Linked DNA regions of Homo sapiens: all the other regions are linked to region 1. Evidence: fine-mapped expression QTL. A gene starts in region 1. Each other region holds a variant in brackets. All regions are shown on one strand. Distances are between the middles of the regions.

Evidence for each region. PIP is the estimated chance that this variant, and not a neighbour inherited with it, causes the effect.
Region 2: its variant is the best candidate, but not a certain one, in a credible set for the expression of PYROXD2 in macrophages (Alasoo 2018, PIP 0.68).
Region 3: its variant is the best candidate, but not a certain one, in a credible set for the expression of PYROXD2 in whole blood (TOPMed, PIP 0.60).
Region 4: its variant is the best candidate, but not a certain one, in a credible set for the expression of PYROXD2 in whole blood (TOPMed, PIP 0.73).

What each region holds. Positions count from the first base shown.
Region 1 is chr10:98,412,357-98,417,504 of GRCh38, forward strand. It overlaps PYROXD2 (pyridine nucleotide-disulphide oxidoreductase domain 2), which reads right to left and starts at 2,826. Exons shown (of 16, transcript NM_032709.3): 1 at 2,653-2,826. The coding sequence starts at 2,779. It overlaps HPS1 (HPS1 biogenesis of lysosomal organelles complex 3 subunit 1), which reads right to left. Exons shown (of 20, transcript NM_000195.5): 20 at 3,842-5,148.
Region 2 is chr10:98,338,074-98,343,221 of GRCh38, forward strand. No RefSeq gene overlaps it. Among named protein-coding and RNA genes, the nearest start is that of MIR1287, 55 kb to the right of the region's middle. RefSeq lists an enhancer at 2,501-2,630. The variant A/G (reference allele first, on the strand shown) is at 2,673.
Region 3 is chr10:98,383,329-98,388,476 of GRCh38, forward strand. It overlaps PYROXD2 (pyridine nucleotide-disulphide oxidoreductase domain 2), which reads right to left. Exons shown (of 16, transcript NM_032709.3): 13 at 5,026-5,148; 14 at 3,873-3,979; 15 at 1,619-1,739; 16 at 240-540. The coding sequence ends at 470. Among named protein-coding and RNA genes, the nearest start is that of MIR1287, 9.4 kb to the right of the region's middle. The variant T/C (reference allele first, on the strand shown) is at 2,044.
Region 4 is chr10:98,374,929-98,380,076 of GRCh38, forward strand. No RefSeq gene overlaps it. Among named protein-coding and RNA genes, the nearest start is that of MIR1287, 18 kb to the right of the region's middle. RefSeq lists enhancers at 1-373, 374-873. The variant G/A (reference allele first, on the strand shown) is at 2,264.

The sequences.
Region 1 (5,148 bases):
CTCTGCTAATCCCCAGACCTGCCTCAGGGGCCCCATAGCAGGCGCCTGGGCCCTTGAGGAGCTGCTCTGGGCGTGGGCTCTGCAGCTGCCTGCATCAGGCAGTGTTGGTTGGGTGGATGTGCTGACCTCTGGGAGACACCTCCCGCCCTCAGAATGCTCGTCACCAGGTATGGGGCCAGGAATCTCCATTTTAACAAGCCCCCTCAGTCACTCTCAGGCACATTTAGTCAAATGACTAAATGAGATTCATCTTCAAGGTGGCGGCCAGGTGCCAGTGTGCCTTCAGGGACTCAGAGGTAACCCTTGTCTCAGAAGATGCCGTTCTGTTCCTCACTGAGGCCCAAGATGCCTTTAAACCAGGCTTTATGGTATGTTTAGCAACTAAAGAAATCATGTCAAGGAAAAGCTCACACACTGAGACTCACTCGCACTTGTAGGCAAGTCACCAAGGCAGCTGGTGACCTAAAGTCAACCTTCCCCATTAGGAGACAGCAGGGTGAGCTGTGGCTGAGCACGGAAGGAGGCAGGGGGCTTCTCTGAGGCTAAGTGAGGTGCTGGAGATGGCTCCCACCAGCCCGGGGAGTTTGTGAGCCGGCTGTCAAACAGCCATTGATATAAACTAAATTATATAAGCTTACAATTAAATAAATTAAAAACAAAGGTAATAAATACTCAAAACACACTACCTCCTATTTGTTTTACTACATTTGACTGTTGCCCATGCCCTGGCAGTCACTGGCCTCTATGTACATATCTGCATGGTGGACACACTATACAATGATGTGCTACTGGGTATCTCTCCTAAATCACATTGAGCAACCTCATCTTGGTAACAGAAAAGGCTATGGTGGGAGTATTTACACCACTGTCATCAGCAAATATTACACAGAAGGGCTGAATTTATTTTTTGTGGTCAGGCTTAAGAAAGTGATGGGAAAATGCTAATAATGCAGATTAAACCTAACAGTGTTAGCTGTTATAGCATGAATAAATAGCACAAAAATTGAAGGAAATATTCTAGTATTAGAACAATATTATCTTATTTGAGTAACATCATTCCTGTCATTTAAAGAAGGAGGCCGGGCGCAGTGGCTCACACCTGTAATCCCAGCCCTTTGGGAGGCTGAGGCAGGTGGATCACAAGGCCAGGAGTTTGAGATCAGCCTCGCCAACATGGTGAAACCCCGTCTCTACTAAAAATACAAAAATTAGCCGGGCGTGGTGGTGGGCGCCTGTAGTCCCAGCTACTCGGGAGGCTGAGGCAAGAGAATCGCTTGAACCCAGGAGGCGGAGGTTGCAGTGAGCCGAGATTGCGCCGCTGCACTCCAGCCTGGGCAACAGAGCAAGACTCCATCTCAATAAATGAATAAATAAATAAAATAAAAATAAATTTTAAAAAATAAAGGAGTAAGGTTGGGACATAAATCTTTGTTGTTTCATTTGTTTCACGATCATCCTACTCTTTACAGAAAATATGGAGCACCGTTCTCTTTGGAGCTACCCTCATTTGTCATTTGCAACTATAGGTTGGCTACTGAGTTTGGCAAAAATCAAAGAAAGCCTTTGGTAAGAATCACTCGGGTAGACTGCATTTAAATTGAGAGTATTGTATCTTTATTTGTAAAATTGTGTGCAGTGTATCTTTTATTTCAATATTTAAAATAAGCATGTGTATATGTGTATATATATGTACGTAACACATATACATATATATACACATATATGTGTGTATATATACATATATATACATGTACACACACACATACATCACACATTTTTCCCTGGAGAGGTGAGTGTTGAGTATCTACCAGCTCGCAACTGCTCTAGTACATATGAAAATGAAGGCATGCCCTCAAAGCTGCATGTTGAGTGCCGTCTGCTTTCGGTCCCGTCATTATCTCTGTATAGACCCAGTTGGCAATCATGCATTTGGGGCCCTCTGCAAGTGTGAAAGGAAGGCACTAAGGAAAGACCACCTGGTCCTGGGCCTGCCTCTTCCCCTAGCACCCAGTAGACTGTGATACTCTGAGCCCAGGGGTTGGCAAAGTGTGGCAGATCACTGCAGATCCCCAAATGTCCCAGAGCTGCAAGGCAATGGGGTCCATCTCCCTCTGCAGACACGCAGTAGGAACTCTGGGACTCAGTTCTGTTTTATCCTAACTGGCCTTTATGAAATGACTGCAGTTTCTTGTGACGAGGGGTGGCCTCAGTGGTAAGGTAGTGGTGACCAGAACTCAGGGCACTGAGGGGGCGGGGTGCTGGATTTCACTTGTCTGTTGGCCCAGGGCTCTTTCCAACCCTTACAAACCATAGGCTGAGAATGTGGTGGAAACTAGGTCACTTTGCAAGAGATATAGGGAAACCCCTGAGCTCACCTAGTCTTCCTGTCATTCTCCATGGGAAGATCCAAGCCCAGAGAAGGCAAGCATTTGCCCCAGGCCACACAGCAGAGCCAGCACCGGAATCCCAGGTGCCTGCCTGCCAGATGGAAGGGCTTTCCATTGCAGCCCCTGCTAGCGTATAAACTTCTGGCTGGGTTATGCCAGAGGAGAGAGCAGTGGGGCTTGGCTCCCCCTCCCCCTCCCCACCAAGCTCTGAGCAGGGCTGTCTTCCCGCCCCTCAGCTCTGGCCCGGCCTGCTTTACCACTTTACCTGCTCCTATCACCACCGCATCATACTCAGGCTTCAGACCTCCCCTGGCTTCCGTGTTATCTCGTCTCCACGCCGGGAAGGGAGAGGCGGCCACAGCCTTGCAGAGACCTCGGCCACTTGCAGCCATTTCTGCCCCAGGCTGGGCCTTGCTAGGCAGGGAGTTTGCTAGCGATTGGCTTTTGTGCTGCCCTAGGCACGGGGTGGAGCAGGGAGGAAGCAGGAAGAGGAGGAGCTGCAGTCCCCCTCCAGGCCCCCTCCACCATGCATTCTTGGCCACAGGCCAGCCTCCTGCTGCCCTGGGGCTGTGCTGGGCCGTCGGGAGTGTTGCCTATTAACCAGGCGGTGTCACCTCCAGGATGCAGGGGATAATGGCAAAACTGACAATCCACTGGGGTTCCTATGTCAGGCTGGCATTGTGCTGAACCCTGTAGGCAAAACTCCCCATTTTACAGATGAGGGCGCTGAGGCTGCGGGGTTAGGGAATGAGTGGTGGAGGCAGAGTGGAGCTCGAAAGGGCCCTCTCCTCCCCTGTGCATCTACCTTCTCAGTCAGAACTGAAACGCCTGGGATGGCAAGTGCTCGTGTCAGACTCTGCTCCAACTCCATGCTGAGTCTGCCAGTGCAGAGTGGTGATGCCTCTACGCCCACAGGAGGCGCCCAGGGCGGCCATCTAGCGTCACCACGACCAGGGCCTTCAGACACCGCAGAGGCAGCTGTGTCTGTCGCTGAGGAGCACTGGAGTCCTCTCCTAAATGCTCAAACACAAACCCACAACGAGGGCTTAGGGGCAAGTTCGCTGTCTGTAATTCTCTGGTGTTTTAGTTTTGAAGGCCTGGCCAGTTCTCCTCTTTTGGCACCTTGCCCATTTTCCAAGAATCCCCAAGGATTCGAGGTCACATCTGTAAATACCTCCAGCTAAAGTTCTTTCTGACCCTCCCTTAGGCCTGCCTTGAATTAGGAGCCCCTTTGTTCTCTGCCCATTACTTAGCAGAGTGTTCCCCTAGGAGGAAAAAACCCCTTGGAGCGGAGAGTTCCTGCACTGCTCTGATATCGCAGTGTGACGGAAACCTGCTATTGGTAACGAATCTCAGAACTGGGAGAGTATGTGGAGATGATCCTAAGAGGGGGTTCCGAGGACCCCTCCACACACCATGGACAGTTACCCCGCATGTGAGCATCTCTGCTAAGATCTGATTCAGGATGTTCACTCCTGTGTTATTTATTATATAGAAAGATCAAGGGGACTGGTTAAACTAGACATATCACATCCAGCCGCTGCTAAAAACTAAAGGGAAATAGTAGGTGACAAAAGCAGGGGTCCTGAACAGTGGTGGGCTCAGGGGATTGGAGTTTTTTCCTTTATGTTTTTCTGTATTTTCCACAATCCACGCTTTTCATTGCCATTCCATCAGATGATGTTAAGGAGGAACACAGATCCAGTCACCTGAGGGGATACTTCCTCACTGCCACCTTCTCAGGGTTTAGACCAACATGTGGGTTCTAGTTCCCCCAGCCCCAAAGCTGTTCCCTGCAAGGAAGAGATCAGTCTTTGAGCAAATTTTGGCTCAAGACTAAAGACACAGAAGGCGAGGCTCCTGCATGCACAGCACACGGCCATCTGATCCTGTGCTGCAGTGGACGCTGACTTTCGCCACGCCGTCCTCTCTGGCCCAGCACCGGCCTCCTGGCCTCAGAGGAGCAGACACTCCCAGTCCCAGGGCTCTCAGGGTCTCTTGTCCCTGGGTCCATTCTGGGACAGGAACTTCTCGGTTGGAAGAGAGGGGCTGTACCCCTCGGGTGGTGGTTCTCAATCCAGGGCGCACCACAGAAGCTTTGAAAGACATCAAAGGCTGGGCTCCACGGCCGCCAAGGGAATCCAAATCTCTGGGCCAGGGCCAGGGGCTTGAGAACCCCAGCCCTAGGGCAGACGCCAGCCAAGCATGAAGGGGCTGGGACTTAGCAAGGGCTTATCAGCACTGACAGAAGGGTCTAGAAGCACTAGCATGTTGGGCTTCAGTGATAACAATGACCAACATTTATTGAGCACCTACCACACTGGGTAATCCTCACACCACCCTGGGACGGAGGTGCCATCGCTTTAAACGTGGGGAATAGAAGAAACTTGCCAGGAGGTGCAGAGAGGAAGTGGCAGCGCTGGAATTCAAACCCAGGCAAAGGAGCACCTTTTACCTGGGGTAGGAGAGAGCTTGCTGGGTGGGCTTCCTCCACGCAGGGAACAGCAGAGATGGGGCTTCCTCCCCATCTCCCAGGATAAAGGCAGAGGCAGCTCTGGAAGAGGAGCTGTTGCCACCGTTGTTTTACAAACAGGACCCCTGGGCTTCCCTCTTCCTCCAGAGAGAAGGATCTGGGGCCTTGCTCAGTACCTGACATGGAGGGTGGTCTAGGTGGGGTTTTAGAAGCCCTGGGGCCACCCTGGGCACTCTGCCCTATCCTCAGGATGGCCACTGCAGACAGGAGGCTCTCGTCATGGGGAAC
Region 2 (5,148 bases), 74 kb before region 1:
CACACCACTGCACTCCAGCCAGGATGACAGAGCAAGACTCTGTCTCAGGGTGAAAAAACAAGTATACAGCTGAAAGCCCAACGCACCTTTCAAACCTCCAGTGACTCCTAAGTTCAAAACGATACACTGTACTTATGAGATATTAGCTGGCTTTCTATTTAAGACCTACAAGCTTTGACTAATTTGGGGTTGGTGACTTTTCCCCCAAAGAAATTCTTATAAAGAGATATTGCTTGGGGATTATGTAGGTTCCCAAAAGGATATTTGCCTAAGGACCCTCCCAACTCAGTCATACGGCCATTTAGTGGTGCAGCCAGAACAAAATGCTTCCTTGGATTTCAGAGCTTGGGCTGTGGCGTCATTTTGACATGGATCCAACCCCAGCTCCACTGACCCACTGAGGGAATCTGAGCAGACTACTCATCATCTCTACGCCTCCCTTTCCTCCTAGGGTTGTTTCAGGATTAAATGATATAATGCTTGTAAAGGCATAGCACGGGCCTGGCATAGTGCTGAAGGTGAACTATTCTTACAGTCTAGTGACCTTCCTGTGACTCAGGAATAGCACCGCCTAGCGAACTCACTTTTGGAGTAGCCTTTCTTTTTTCCAGCTTTGTTGTGATATAACAGACATACAATAAACTACACACATTTAAGTGTACAATTTGATGAGTTTTGACATAGGTACACACCTGTGAAAATCATCACTATCAGAATAATGAACAGATCCATCACCCCAAAAAGTTTCCTTTGCCCTTTTGCAATCCATCCCTCCCTTCTCCTTGTCCCCCAGCAAACACGGATCTGCTCTCTGTCACTATCGATTAGCTTGCATTTTCTAAACTTTTTATAAATGGAAGCATACCATATGATTCATTTTTTGTCGGGCTTCTTTTACTCAGCATGATTATTTTGAAATCCATCCATCTTTGGATGAATCTCAACTTGGTTTCTGTTTTTTTTTTTTCTTTCTGCGCATGGTGGATAAAGTATTTCCAAATGAGAGATGCAGGCCAGTGGGGTGCTTCTCCAAAGTCCCGGCTGGGGTTTCTAGTGTATTATTGCAGCTGCCTGGGGGTTCTAACACTTGTCTTTTGAGCACTCTGATGCTCCCTGTGTCCCAGTATGTGCAAGTGTAGCTGGTTCAAAAGCCACAGGACTTACCAGGGTGCACACCAGACTCTTGGACGCAACTTTTTCACATTGCGTGTGCCTAGACTTCATCCCCAGGGCTTCAAAGGTCTGAAGTGTGGCCTGGTTGTGAAACTCTGTTTTGAAGTAATGCCACTAATTTCCAAAACTCACCTGGGCAGTGAACACATAAGCAAAAGGAAGGGAGTTCAGGCTGGGCGTGGTGGCTCATGCCTATAATCCCAGCACTTTGGGAGGCCAAAGTGGGCAGATCACTTGAGGTCAGGAGTCCAAGACCAGCCTGGCCAACACAGAGAAACCCCGTCTCTACTAAAAATACAAAAATTAGCCAGGCGTGGTGGTGGGTGCCTGTAATCCCTGCTACTTGGGAGGCTGAGGCAGGAGAACTGCTTGAACCAGGGAGGCAGAGGTTGCAGTAAGCTGAGATTGTGCCACTGCACTCCAGCCTGGGTAACAGAGTGAGACCCTCTCTCAAAAAAAAAAAAAAAAAAAAGGGAGTTGAGGTAGCACCTGATGGTAGGAATCACATTCCATAGAAGATCTGCTATGGGCTGCTCTGTGCACCTGAAAGACCTTGTAAGACATCTGTGGGCCAAGGTGAGTGTGGTACCCACAGTTTTAACAACCACATGTGAAAATAAGTCTGCTCCCTGGGTTTATTTCAGTATTTAAGCACACGTGACCAGAGGGCCACTGCGTGTTGTGTGCATCCGGAAATAAACAGGGTGGTACCATCACCTGCCTGCCCATGCAGTTCCAGAAAACCACACTCAAGAGGACACGGAAATCAATATTGAAAATGAGACACTCAAGTTACCACAAAGAGCTATTTTTGCTTATTCCAAATTGCTCTGTTTCTTTAAGCAGCTATTTGCAGTCAGCCTCTTCTCTGGCTATGTATAGGAATGGCTCAGGCAATCTAAAAAAGAAAGAGGAAAAAGAAAAGAAATCCGCAAATAGGTTCACACCCCAGGGATAAATCTGGGGCATTTGCAAACGTGGTACAAGTCAGTTATTTTCCCAAATACCCAGCCTCTCCAAATTCTACCCACGGGTTGGGAACCATCAAGAAATAAATACCCAGGTACATTAGCGGGTCACTTTCTAGTAAGTGCTCAGAATTTAAAAATAGAGATTTGAAAGGAAATGTCTCCTTTGCCTCTAGTAGGGGGCAGCTCTCTGCTCTGTCTTTTGCTCTGCTATTCTGAGACCACGTTCTGGTGGCAGGTGAGGGGAAGCTCAGGTCTATTTTTAAAACCTTCTGCTTCTCTGACTGTTGCCAGGGAGAACTTGGACAAAAGAGCAGTGCAGAGAAGGGAGGGAAGATCACCGTGAACACTGGTCCAGTGAGTCACTCAGCAATTGTGTGCTGGTTCTACCACCCCCAAAGACATCGGATCTCCCCCCTCAGCTCTATCTCCTTTGCTGCCACCTTGTCTGGGTCACTGTTATTTTTCACCTTGGCCAAGTGGACTTCCTGTTCTTACCCCTGGCTCTTCCAGTCTGTCCTCCACCCTGGA[A/G]CCAGAGAGAGCTTTTTAAAAGTGCAAATTGGACTGAATCACAGCTCGCATTAATATAAATGCATAATAAAAAGTCTGGAAGCTGTTAATAGTGAGTGTCTCTGGGGCAGGGGCGAAGGGAGACTAGAATGTTTTTACTATGCCTGCTTCTGTGCGGTTTGAATTTTATACCAGCAGCTTGTATTTCTTTCATAATTTTAAAAGAATCTCAAACGTTTAATTTGGTCCCTGCACTCTAGGAGTTCTTAATCTTGCATTTGAGTCCCCAACACTAAAAAGTCTATGAATTATGCTTGTTCATTATGGCCTTAAGGAGCAGAAGCTGCCATCACCGAGTGGAAGTGATGAAAGTGAGTATTAAGAAAGAGTGTGCTGATAAGCAGAGCTGCCTGAAGGTGGGCTGGTGAGCCAGCACAGGCAGTGTGCCAGGGCCAGGGCAGATGTCCCAGCTGAGGCTGGTGCCCTTTGCTGCAAAGTGGTCACTTGCCCTTGGGGTCCCTGCAGTTCTGTGACTCCATGGGATGCCCTGGCAGATACTTTTTTTAGCCTGACAGCTTTCTTTCATTTCTACCTCTAGTTTCTTTTTTTTTTAATTGTTATTTTTATAGATTCGGGGACTACAAGTGTAGTTTCGTGATGTTGATATATTGAGTGGTGGTGGAGTCTGGGCTTGTAGTGTAACCATTACCTGAATAGTGTACACTGTACCTATTAGGTAATTTCTCATCCTTCATTCCCCTCCCACCATCCCACCCTTCTGAGTCCCCAGTGTCTTTCTACTAGGTCCATGTGTACACATTCCTTAGCCCACTTATAAGTGAGAACATGCAGCCATCTGCAATTTCTTTTTTTTAAGTGAGAACATGTAGCCACCTGCAATTTCTTTTCTTTTTTTTCTTTTTTTTTTTTTTGAGACAGAGTCTCACTCTGTCACCAGGCTGGAATGCAGTGGCATAATCTTGGCTCACTGTAACCTCTGCCTCCCAAGTTCAAGGGATTCTCTCGCCTCAGCCTCCTGAATAAGCTGGGATTACAGGTGCCCGCCACCACGCCCGACTAATTTTTGTATTTTTTAGTAGAGACGAGGTTTCACCATGTTGGCCAAGATGGTCTCCATCTCTTGACCTCGTGATATGCCCGCCTTGGCCTCCCAAGATACTGGGATTACAGGCGTGAGCCACCGCGCCTGGCCAGCCACCTGCAATTTCCATCAGACAAATACAGTCCTGCAAGTCATAACTTAATCTTGTAGTTTCCTGTGCCCTGAAGGTATGCACAGCAGTTCTTCTACAAGAAAAAAGAACACACAAGATCTATATGGAGTCAAATTGGATACTAGAGTTGGAAGGAGGAGACTCCAGGAACCTCCTTCCTGCCAGGGAGGAACCATCAGCACAAGCATTCCCAGCTAACCTTCCCCCTGCAGCTTCAACTATGGAAGCCACTTCACTTGTAAGTCAAGTCCCATGGGTGCCTGCCCGTGCCTGCCTCCCCCGCCTGCATTCTGGTCCCTCCACTCACTCCCTCGGGCGCAGTGACGCCTCTGGATGCAGCTCATTGTTTGGCTTCTGGAAGAGAAGTCATACACCTGTCCAAAGGGATGACATATCTTTCCAGCTGTCATTATTCTTATTGTGGAATAAATAGAGATATTAGTTTGATTGGACAAGCACTTTATGGAGTCTACCTTGTTCCCTGTAGTCTCTCAGACATTTACAAATCGGTTGAACCATGTTTTTATTTTCTCCACCACCTCAAGGCCATACCATTTCTCTTTTTAATATACAGACTATGCCTTGCACAGAGTAAGTGCCAATAAATATTTGTTGAATTGATTTTCCTGTTCAGAGATGTGGCAGAAAGACCCTCTTGTTTTGTGTGCATAATTCTTCTGTGTGGCGATTGTTGAAATCCTTTCTTATGGATACTGGTCATATCGGCCAGCACCAGGCCAAGTCTCAGGGTCTGAGCTGAATATTACCTGGGTCAACAACCAAAGGCGACCTAAAGCTGAGCACAGATTGTGGTGGGAGAAGGGAGACCATAGAGGGTAAAAGGAGAACAATTCCAGTCCCTCACAGACAGGGATGAATATATGCTGCAGGCAGGAGTCAAGGTAAGAGGCTGAGAGCCCATGAGATGAGGAGCGGGTGACGGAGTAGAGAGAAAAGAGGGATGATATGATGGGTTCAAGGTCAAGGTGGTGGCCAAGGGCGGCCAAGCCAGTCATCCTGGGTTTGCATCCTCGTTCATGCTAGATGCCACTTTGGACAACTCTCTTAACTCCATAGAACCACATCAGCTCCATCTCTATAAGACCAGGGGGCTCATAGTCACTGTGGGGATTTAACAAGGGAACTAGTATTTGTGAAAACACTGTAAACTGGGAAATGTAAATGCAAATAGAAGGCAAATTTGCAACATTTGGAAACATCTCCTATCCTTAAATAATTTTTTGTAAGTCTTCCTCTGCTTT
Region 3 (5,148 bases), 29 kb before region 1:
CTGTCTAATTTTTGTACTTTTAGTAGAGATGAGGTTTCACCATGTTGGCCAGGCTGGTCTTGAATTCCTGACCTCAAAGTGATTTGCCTGCCTGAACTTCCCGAAGTCCTGGGATTACAGGCATGAGTCACCATGCCTGGCCTTTAAATGGACTGCTTCTTAGCTGATGTAAGAATTATGAGTACCCCAGAGAAGTCTATCCCACCAACTAACACAGAGAAAAAATACAAGCAAAATAATCTGTATGAAATATTAGTTTTAATAAAACAGAACCAGTCCATGTATGGAGGCATGGGCATAAGGTCAACTTGCACTAAATGTAACTCGTACGTTTTTTCTAAAATAATTTCTTGAGCATTGTGGTGGCCTTATGTACTAACCCGAAGCTGAACTTCCTGGGAAGCTGATCCAATGGAGCACTTGGAATTCAGGGGTGGAGTCTTCTTCCTGGGTCAGAGCTGGTTCAGGGTCACATGCTCTTGAGGTCCCTAAAGGCCACATGTGCTGCATTTCGCCCAGCAGCTCCCATCACACCTCCTCCTGGAAGGGAATCTCCTATGAACCAAAGCTCCGCTCAAAAACCTGCCAGGGTGGGGGTGGGGACAGGGCTTACAGAGATCCAGCAACAAAGCAGAGTGGGGCTGGTTAGAGGGGTCCGGGGGCATGGGCACTGGAATCACCTAAGACAGCCGCTCAATAGATTCTGGCTCCCTCCAGGCTTCCTGCACCAAAGGTCTGGGGAGGGGCCAGGTCCACAGCCCACAGTCTCAACGGCTGAGGGTGGACGTGCTGGATGGGCACACGCTTAGTAAGTGAAGTTAAAATTTCAGAATAAGGGGCTGGGGGGAGGGGGAAGATGTGTAAGCCCAGACTCTTTCCAGGGTACCAAGTCTACACAGCTGAGAGAAAGTGTGCATAGCAAATAGCCTCAGCCAGCTCCGTTAGGCTTGGAATGCGCACAAGAAAGAATTGTAAAGTTGAAGAAGTTAACTTTATCCATCCTTCCTGGTCTAAAATATGGATGGAGGCCTCTAATCCCAGCACTTTGGGAAGCTGAGTGGAGAGGATCACTTCAGCGCGGGAGTTCGAGACCAGCCCGGGCAACCTAACAAAACCCATCTCCACAAAAGAATAAAAAATTAGCCAGGCATGGTGGCACACACCTGTAGTCCCACCTACTCCAGAGGCCGAGGCAGGAGGATCACTTGAGCCCAGGAGGTTGAGGCTGCAGTGAGCTGTGATCATACCACTGCACCTCCAGCCTAGGCGATAGCGTGAAGCCCTGTCTAAATATATATACGGATGGGGAATTTAGGGACATGGGTCTCTCACAACCCCACATTGGAATGTGGTGAGATGCCTCCACCAGGATGCATCCCCAGGCCTCCTGAAGGGGAGGTGTGAGCTCAACTGTGGGCTGTGGTCAGCCTGGTGGAGGCAGCGGCTGTGTGCTCACCTGTGCATGGATAATTCTGAACACAGGGCAGCTTATGTTGGGAGTTCCCTGCTCCCCTCCCTCTCTGCCACCTTCATTGCTTAACTTCCTCCTTCTCCAAGTCTCTGGCCTCCAGTGAGCCCTCCCAGTCCCCACAGGGTAGTGGGACTCCAGGTCACTCACCAGGATGAGCCCCACTTCCACAGAGATACAGGCCCTGGAGAGGGCAGCGGTAGCCAGAATGCAGGGGCACGGGGCGGGCGAAGTAGAGCTGGTCCAGGGACATGGCGCAGTGGAATATGTTCTGCAGAGGCAGGGCCACAGTCATCAGCACAGGAGAGTTACAGCCTTTCCTGCTCTGGCTGGGTTTCTTCCCCTCCCCTGTTCTTCAGCAAATGTTCTTCTCCTTCCAGGATATTTTCTTGGGTTTTAAAATGCAGAAAGGGAAGGAGATGAGACGGAATGGGCACATGCCCTGGGGCTGGGAGTGAAGTTTTCCAGAGGCTTTTTGAGGAAGAAAGCAGGGTGGGGAACACGAACTGAACGGGAAGGAAAAGAGGGTTTTGCTCTCTACTCTGCATCCCTCTCCCTCTGTTGGAAAAACAGAA[T/C]TGTCTGACTTATTGTGGCTGTTGGCATGCGTCTCTGCGAGAACTCCCTTCTCTGGCCAAGGCATCCACCTGAGCCCGGACCCCGGTGTCCAAGCTCCAGCAGGATCACTGTGAATGGCAGACAAGGGGCAACGGAGCCCGAGCACGGTTCTGCCCCCCTGGCTTGGGTGAGACCAGCCCCAGGCTGAGAAGGGAGGCAGCATGGGACAAGCGAAGGTCAGACTCAGGGGGCAGGTCTGGACAAGAAGCCTGACGTCTGTTGGGCATCCTCACAGGAGTGCTCCCCCACTGCCCTCTTCACCTTTCCCCAAACTGAGGCCATCCTCTTCCCTCGAGTCTGCTCCTCCCCATCCTCCTGCATAAGTGAATGACACCACCTTCCTCCCCCTGGCCTCTGTGCCTACCCTTCACATCACCTCCACCCTGACTCCTATGTGCACACTGTCACCAAGGCTTCTCAAGTCTGCCCGCCCCATGCCTGCTGTACCCAGCCATTCCCTTCCTTCCCGCTGCCTGGCCTTCTTTCCTCTATACCTGGACCAGTGCTGTTCAGTGAACATGTAATGGGAGCTACATATGTAGTTTTTGATTTATTAGTAGCTACATTTAAAAAGTAAAAGCAGAGCCGGTTGTGGTGGCCCATGCCTGCAATCCCAGCACTTTGGGAGGCCAAGGTGGGAGGATCACTTGAGCCCCAGAGTTTGAGACCAGCCTAGACAACACAGGGAGACTCATCTCTACAAAAAAAAAAAAAAATTAGCCAGGTGTGGTGGTGCATGCCTGTAGGCCCAGCTACTCAGGAGGCTGAGGTGGGAGGATGGATGGCTTCAGCCCCAGAGGTCGAGGCTGCAGTGAGCCGTGATTGCACTACTGCACTCCAGCCTGGGTGATAGAACAGGACCTATCTCTAGAAGGAAGAGAGGGAGGGAGGGAGGGAGGAAACAAGGAAGGGAGGGAGGAAGGAAGGAAGGAAGGAAGGAAGGAAGGAAGGAAGGGCAAGCTGATGAAACTAATGTCAATAATATATTTTATTTAGCCCAATATATCCAAAATATTATAATTTCAACATGTAATCAATATATAACTTATTGATGAGATATTTTACATTTTTTTCTATACTGTGTGCATTCTACACTTGCAGCACATCTCACTTTGGCCTCAGATCTTTCTTTTGCTTTTTTTTTAAATTTTCTTTCTAGAGATAGGGTCTCATTCTGTTGCCCAGGCTGAAGTGTAATGACGCATCACAGCTCACTGCAGTCTCAAACTCCTGGGCTCAAGCGATCATCCTGTTTCAGCTTCCTGGGTAGCTGGAACCACAGGTACGCACCACCACACCTGGCGGGGTTTTTGTTTTTGTAGAGATGGGGTCTCACTACGTTGCCTAGGGTGGTCTCTGATCTTTCAAGTGCTCAGTAGCTGCAATGAGGCGATTGAACCTGGCCTCCTATCTGGTCTCCCTGTCTCCAATCTCTAGTTTTTGATAAATTGACAAGTCTGAGGATGTGCTGCTGCCTTGAGAAGGGGGTGCTCTCTCTCAAGAAAGTCAGATGGCAGAGCCAGCATAGTTGTCAAGGCAGAGGGCCACAATCCTGGTGACCTTCTCAGTGGGGGCTGTCCTGCCTGTGTTTCTGAGCCCCCACTAGGGATCCCCCATTCCCTCGGTTTGACCGCTTCTCTGCCCTCTCTCAGCCGGGGTCCCTGCCACTGTCCTCCCTTCCTGATGAAAGCTGAGTATGGAGGGACAAGATAAAGCAGAGAGGTCATAGCCAGGAAGTGAGGGTGCAGAGGGAAGGCTATGGTGAGAGACCCCCTAGGCTTATACATACCCCTCCAGGAAGCCCGAAGATTCTCTCCAAATCTGGTGGTGTGAGGATGTCTCTGCCAACCACAGAGTCCTTGAAGCCAGGGGCATAGACCTCGATGCAATCAAACACTGGGGTGCCAAAAACAGAGAAATGAGATGGTGTTAGGAAGAAGAGGAGGCACTATGGGTGTACAACTTGGCAAATTTACTAACAGTCATTAAATTACACACAGAAATGGGCTTATTTTATCATATGCAAATTATACCTCAATAGGTGAAAAACAAAAATCAGTCCACAAGCAAATGATTAATTCATCCCAAAGATGCATGGGTAGGCCAGTCCAGTCCCCAGTTTTCCCCACTTCCCTACCCCAACCTTAAACACGAAGCTGCTGATCTCCTTTTGCATATGCAGCTTTTTTCACCTCTTCACTTTTCTCAAGCTGTTTTTTTTTTTTTTTTTTTTTTTTTTGAGACGGAGTCTCACTCTGTCACCCAGGCTGGAGTGCAGTGGCGCAATCTCAGCTCACTGCAACCTCCGCCTCTGGGTTCAAACGATTCTCCTGCCTCAGCCTCCTGAGCAGCTAAGATTACAGGCATGTGCCACCACACCCTGCTAATTTTTTTATGTTTTTAGTAGCTACGGGGTTTCACCATGTTGGTCAGGCTGGTCTTGAACTCCTGACCTCGGGTGATCCGCCTGCCTCGGCCTCCCGAAGTGCTGGAATTACAGGCATGAGCCCCCACGCCTGGCCTGATCAAGCTGTTTCTCTTGCTTGGAATGCCCTTTGCTGCCTGGCCAGCTCCTAGTCATCCTTGGAAACCCAGCTTGACCATCCCTTCCTTTGAAAGCCTTCCTTGTCTCTCTGGCTCATGCGTCTCCTTTGGTTCGTGCAGTCAGCTGTGCTGTAATAAAAGGTTTCTTAATTAGTCTCCTCCATCCCTTGCTAGACTGTGAGCAACTGGAGGGCAGGAACTGTGTCTTCTTGACTTTCTTAGCCCAGTTCCTGACCCCTGCAGTCAACTATGTTGACTTGAGGTTCCCTTGACTATTTCCTCCCTTTGGAATGGCACCTGCAGTTGTCAATCCTGAATGGGGCAGTGAGGAGGAGCAGGCCCAGTTGGGTCGCATGCCCGGCTGTGGCTCTGGAGGCAGAACGTGCAGCTGTCTTTACCTCTGTCTGCATAAGCGTCTCTCTCCTGCTCGTCCCAGGCCTTGCCTCCAGCCAGCGTATAGGGCATGTACTGAGTGAAGAGGGAGACTACATGGCAGCCAGGGGGAGCCAGGGTGGGGTCCA
Region 4 (5,148 bases), 37 kb before region 1:
AAATATGGGCTGCTCCAGTTTCTGCAGCGTGCAGATGAGTCTCTGGCTTCTGTAGTAGAAATCCAGGCCCAGGTCCCCATCTGCCTCGGTCCTTGATGAGATGCAGGTCATCCACAGTCTCAAAGCAGGTAGAGGGGTCCATGCTGCCCCAGGGGACAATACCTACAAGGTGTTACAAACACCTCCAGCCAAAAACAGGTGCTGCCACTAAAGCTTCCCAGATCCAGGTTCCACAGCCAGGATCCGTCTTCTGTCTGTGGCAGAGGTGAATGAGGAGCTGTTTGCATTGAGGCTGCAGAGAACATGGCTGTATTATGGAGATGAGAAGGAGCCACGCTGGCCTCTGTTCATGGCCCTCCACTGAGCACCTGGGCTTGGCAGACAGAGGGGTGTAGTAGTCTGAAGATCTGGCTCTAGCCTCCAAGTGAGAAGCTCCCACTCCCAACTCATGTCCATATCTCAACTGCTCATTTGAGTCCTTGGGAGAGGGCGAGGGGAGGTGGGGAGGAGGAAGCCCAAGAGTTTGTCCCCTGGCCTCTGCCAACACTGCAAATGTGGCCACTTTAACAGGCTAACAGACTGGACGTCCTCCCATGTGTGTAAAATCCCCATACCTCCTCCAGCAAACTCCATGTTGGCTGTAGAATGAAGGCCACCTTCTGCCCGGCATGGCATCTGCAGCTTGACCCTCTTATCCGGCCTTATTCTCGCCTTTGCTCTTCACAATCCTCATCCCGTCCGACTGTGGCTCTGAACTCTCTGCCCATCCCTCCATCCCACCGTTGTCACATGGTGCCCAGAAGACCCTGAATGCCCACCTTATTCTTTTCACTCATCATGTCTAGTGCATCCTTGACCCCACTCTAGCTCAGTCCCCTCTGCTGTGAGAAATACTTCCTGACCCTACCAATTAACAGGCAGCTTGTCTCTCCAAATTCCACTAGTGTGCTCACACAGATTCATGCAGCTAGAGTTGTTAATAATTCTTATATGAGTGTTCTTTGTCGTCCTCCACTAGACTGTAAATGCTTTGCAACAAGGAACCATTCCTTAACATTCATGTATAGCCCTACACAGGTGGCCAACAATTGATGGAACTTGATGACCCTACAACCAGTTGTCCACTAGGTGTGTCCAGAGTGTTGTTTCTTGCTTAGAGCATGATTTTTGCTGTCAGAAGGACCTCAGTTCAAATCTTGACTGTGTCAACTACCAGCTCTGTGACCTCAGGAAACTATTTAACCTAACTGTGTTTGTTTCCTCTTCTGTAAAAGCAGAGATGTACAGTAATCGGCCCCCAGGTTTATTGTAGATTTAAAGCATGGGAAATTCTTGCTTGGTGCAGTACCTGGCATGAAATCAAGGCTCACTAAATAGCAGCCATTATTATTATCGGGTTAGTTTGGGGCTGGTGCCTCTGCTACAGTGAGTCTTAACAAGCATCAAATTAATGGAGATAGATCCTGGTTTTAGGGGAGGCATCCTGGAGAGAATGTTGAAGTGAGTTTTGGAAATCCGACAAGGAGAGAAATCAGAAGTTAACCCAATTGCATTTCTCCCAACTTTTCAACAGCCTTCAGGCATACTCATTTTTAGCTGATTCTCCAGATATTGCTAGAACTTTTCCCAGAGGCAGATGCAGAGTGACTGTGCAGACTCTGAAAAACAGTGCTTGTCACCTGACCTTAAATGTAACAAACAACCCCTGAGGAAGGTAGCTCCAATTACAGTCATGAAGTTGGAGGAGCCCTTTCAAGGCAGATTGATTTACTGGACCAGAAATACAGCTCAACATCCCACACACAGATTTCTGCCTTTGGCAAACTGCCCTGCCTGCTTCCTTCTCTCTTGCCCTGGCGTATTGATCTGCATGTGTGAGTTGGTGTAGTTTATTGTATAGGGTTGTGTGTGTGTGTTTGTGTGTGCTGTGGTCCCAGGATGGAAGCTCCTAGATTGGGAGCCCTCTAATTGAGTGATGTCCAAAGCCTTAATCGAGGGAAATCTTGCTCCATTTCTTTTTGTGGTGGCTTTAATTTCATCCCTCTGCTTCAGGTTGGCATAGAATGTTCCAGAAGGCCTCTCACTCTGTCTGATTCCTGTGCTTCTGAGTATATGTAGTAACATGTTGTTGTATAAGGAAGGAAAAAAACTAGTTTTTGTTGTGTGCCTTGTGCCAGACAAAAAAAAATTACCATCTCCATGAGTCACATAAGAAATTGAGACTTGGAAGCATTAGGAACATGCCTAAAATCCAATGCTGGTA[G/A]AGCCAGGATCCAAACACAGGTGTGTCTGACTTGATGCCCTCTGTCATAGTGACTCCAGGCTTGGCCCTGCTGGGAGATGGACGCCCAGCCACTATGGGAGTGAAGTCCAACTCATAGGGTCATTTTGAATGGGAAAACTTTGAAATCTAGGGGCATAATTTCAATTCATATCATCGTATTTTGCACCCATCATGTGCATGGCTATGTGGCCTTCTCCCTTGTATTAGTTATTGATTGCTGTGTGAAAAATTAGTACAAACTTGGTGGCTTTGAACAACACACATTTATTATCTCACAGTTTCCACTGTTCAGGAATCTAGGCACAGCTGGACTCCCTGTTCAGGGTGTCACAAGGCTATACTCACAGTGCCGGCCAGGCTGTGTTCTCATCTGGAAGCTCAACTGGGGAAGCATCCATTTCCTTGCTCACATGTGTTGGCAGCATCCATTCTCTGAGGTAGTAGGTCTGAGAGCTTCAGTCAGCTGGAGGCTACTGCAGTTACTTGCCACATGGGGTTTTCAACAGGGCTACCTGCCTCCTCACGGCCAGCCAGGAACTGAAATTCCTGCACGATTATGCTGTGTGTGATATAATCACATACCTCCTTTCACCTTTGTCATATTCTGTTGGTTAGAAGCAATTCATAGACCTCACCCACCCTTGAGGGGAGGGGAGCACACAAGGCCATGGGCACCAGTAAGCAGGGGTCCTGGGTAGGGGGCACCCTACAGGTCTGTCCACCACATCCCTCTTTCCCTTTCTCCTCTTCTCCTTCCTTACCCTCTTTCTTCATTTCCCCTTTCAAGTCTAGCCTCAGACATAGGGCTTTGCCAATAAATATTAGCTTTAGAGTAATGATGTTAATAAGTGACATCACTATATTCCAGGCACTAGTTTTTTTAACTTTCTATTGAAGTATAATATACATACAGAAAACTGCAACACCCTAAGTATAGAAACCAATGAATTCTTCAGAAACTGAACATGCCTATGTAACCATCACATAGATCAAACAGGAAGATACACTGCTAGCACCCTGAAGCCCTTCTCAGGCTTCCTTCTAGGCCTTAACACCCTCAATGGTGAACTTTTTTTTTCAATACAGCGTCTCATTCTGTTGCCCAGGCTGGAATGCAGTGGTATGAGCATAGCTCACTGTAGCCTCCAACCCCTGGGCTCAAGTGATCCTCCCTCCTCAGCCTCCCAAGTAGCTAGGACTACATGCATGCACTACCATGCCTGGCTATTTTTTTTTTTTAGAAATGAGGTCTTGCTACATTGCCCAAGCTGGTCTTGAACTCCTTGCCTTAAGCAATCCTCCCACCTCAGCCTCCCAAAGTGCTGGGATTACAAGTGTGAGCCACTGTGCCCAACCAAAGGTGAACTTTTAACAGTATAGGAACTATTAATTTAGACTGTTTCTGTATAAATTATAAGCAGAATCCTACAACATGTATTATTTCATTTCTGGTTTCTTTGACTCAAAATAGTTTTGTTGCATGTGGTTCTAGATTGTTCATTCTCATTGCTGAATAGTAGCCCATCATGCGAAGGTGCCGCAATTTACTTATCCGTTCTACTTTCAATGGGCATTGGGGTAGCTTTCTGGTTGGAGGTATTACAAGTAGTGCTGCTAGGAGCAGCCTAGTATGTATCTTTTGGTGAACACCAGTAAGCATTTCTGCTGGGTATATCTGGGAGTGGGTGTGCTGAGTCACACAGTGTGCATATTTTTTGAGCTGTGTTTATGTATATACAATCCTCACATCCCTCTATGGGAGGCAACATCATCCTCTTTATACACAACAGCCTTCTGGGTCAGACCTACACTTTCTCCATGGGTCCTGAAAGATCAGACAGGAAGGAAGGCCGACAGGTGCAGTGCAGAAAGTGTAGGTTTCACCTATCTTTTCACTATTGACAACCTTCTTTTTTTTTTTTCTTAAGAGACACATTGTTTTGAAGACTTCTGCATACCAATCAAATGTCCTTTGGTTAGTCTCATTTAATTCCTCTAGTGATTCTCTTATTACTCAAAGACACATATAGCCAGCTGCAGAGCTGCTGGTCTGACAACCTACATAACAGCATTGCCTAGTTTCAGATAAAACCAGACAAAATCCAGGTTCAGGTCCACCTTGGTCACCTCCTTACAAGAACACAGGATTTCTGTTGGGCTGTGTAAACACTAGAAGATGCCGCCCTTTCCCTTTGTGATGCTGCAGGGACCTTAGATGACCAAAGACGCCACGTCTCCACTGAGGATCTCTTAGACCGAGACCAGGTCTGAAGCGCTCTGACTTATGCCAATCGATATATATCAATGCATAAGCCATTCACACACCATTTTGACCAGGCACAAGCCATCATTTTTAAACAAAAATTCAAAGTCCCATCCATTTACTTTGGGCTGGTTCTTATGCTATGATAGGTTCCATGAAGGTAGTGAGGAACATTTTCCAAGCTGCTGCCAAGTGGTCAGAAAGACTTCAGGCTACTGCTAGCAGACTGTACTTTGGGGTATACTTTGTTCTTTCCCATTTGTCTCTCTGTTTCTATCTCTCCATCTCTGTCTTTCTCTCTGTCTCTGTCTTTCTCTGTGTGGGTAAGTATGTTTTTTATAGTTAGTATATGTAATGTATATTTACATATATATGAGAGATCTGTCTACCCATCTATCAACTATCAACAAAATTCAGGTCCCATTATATCTTACTTTTTATTAGCATATTTTTTCCATGTGATAAAAGAAAAGTACATTCAAAAATGTAACTTTTAAAGTTATTGTTTGATATTCTATCACGTGCCGTTACCATGATTAATTTAACTAATTCTCTATTTTGGGACATTTAGGCTGTTTCCAGTATTTTGCCATTGCAAATA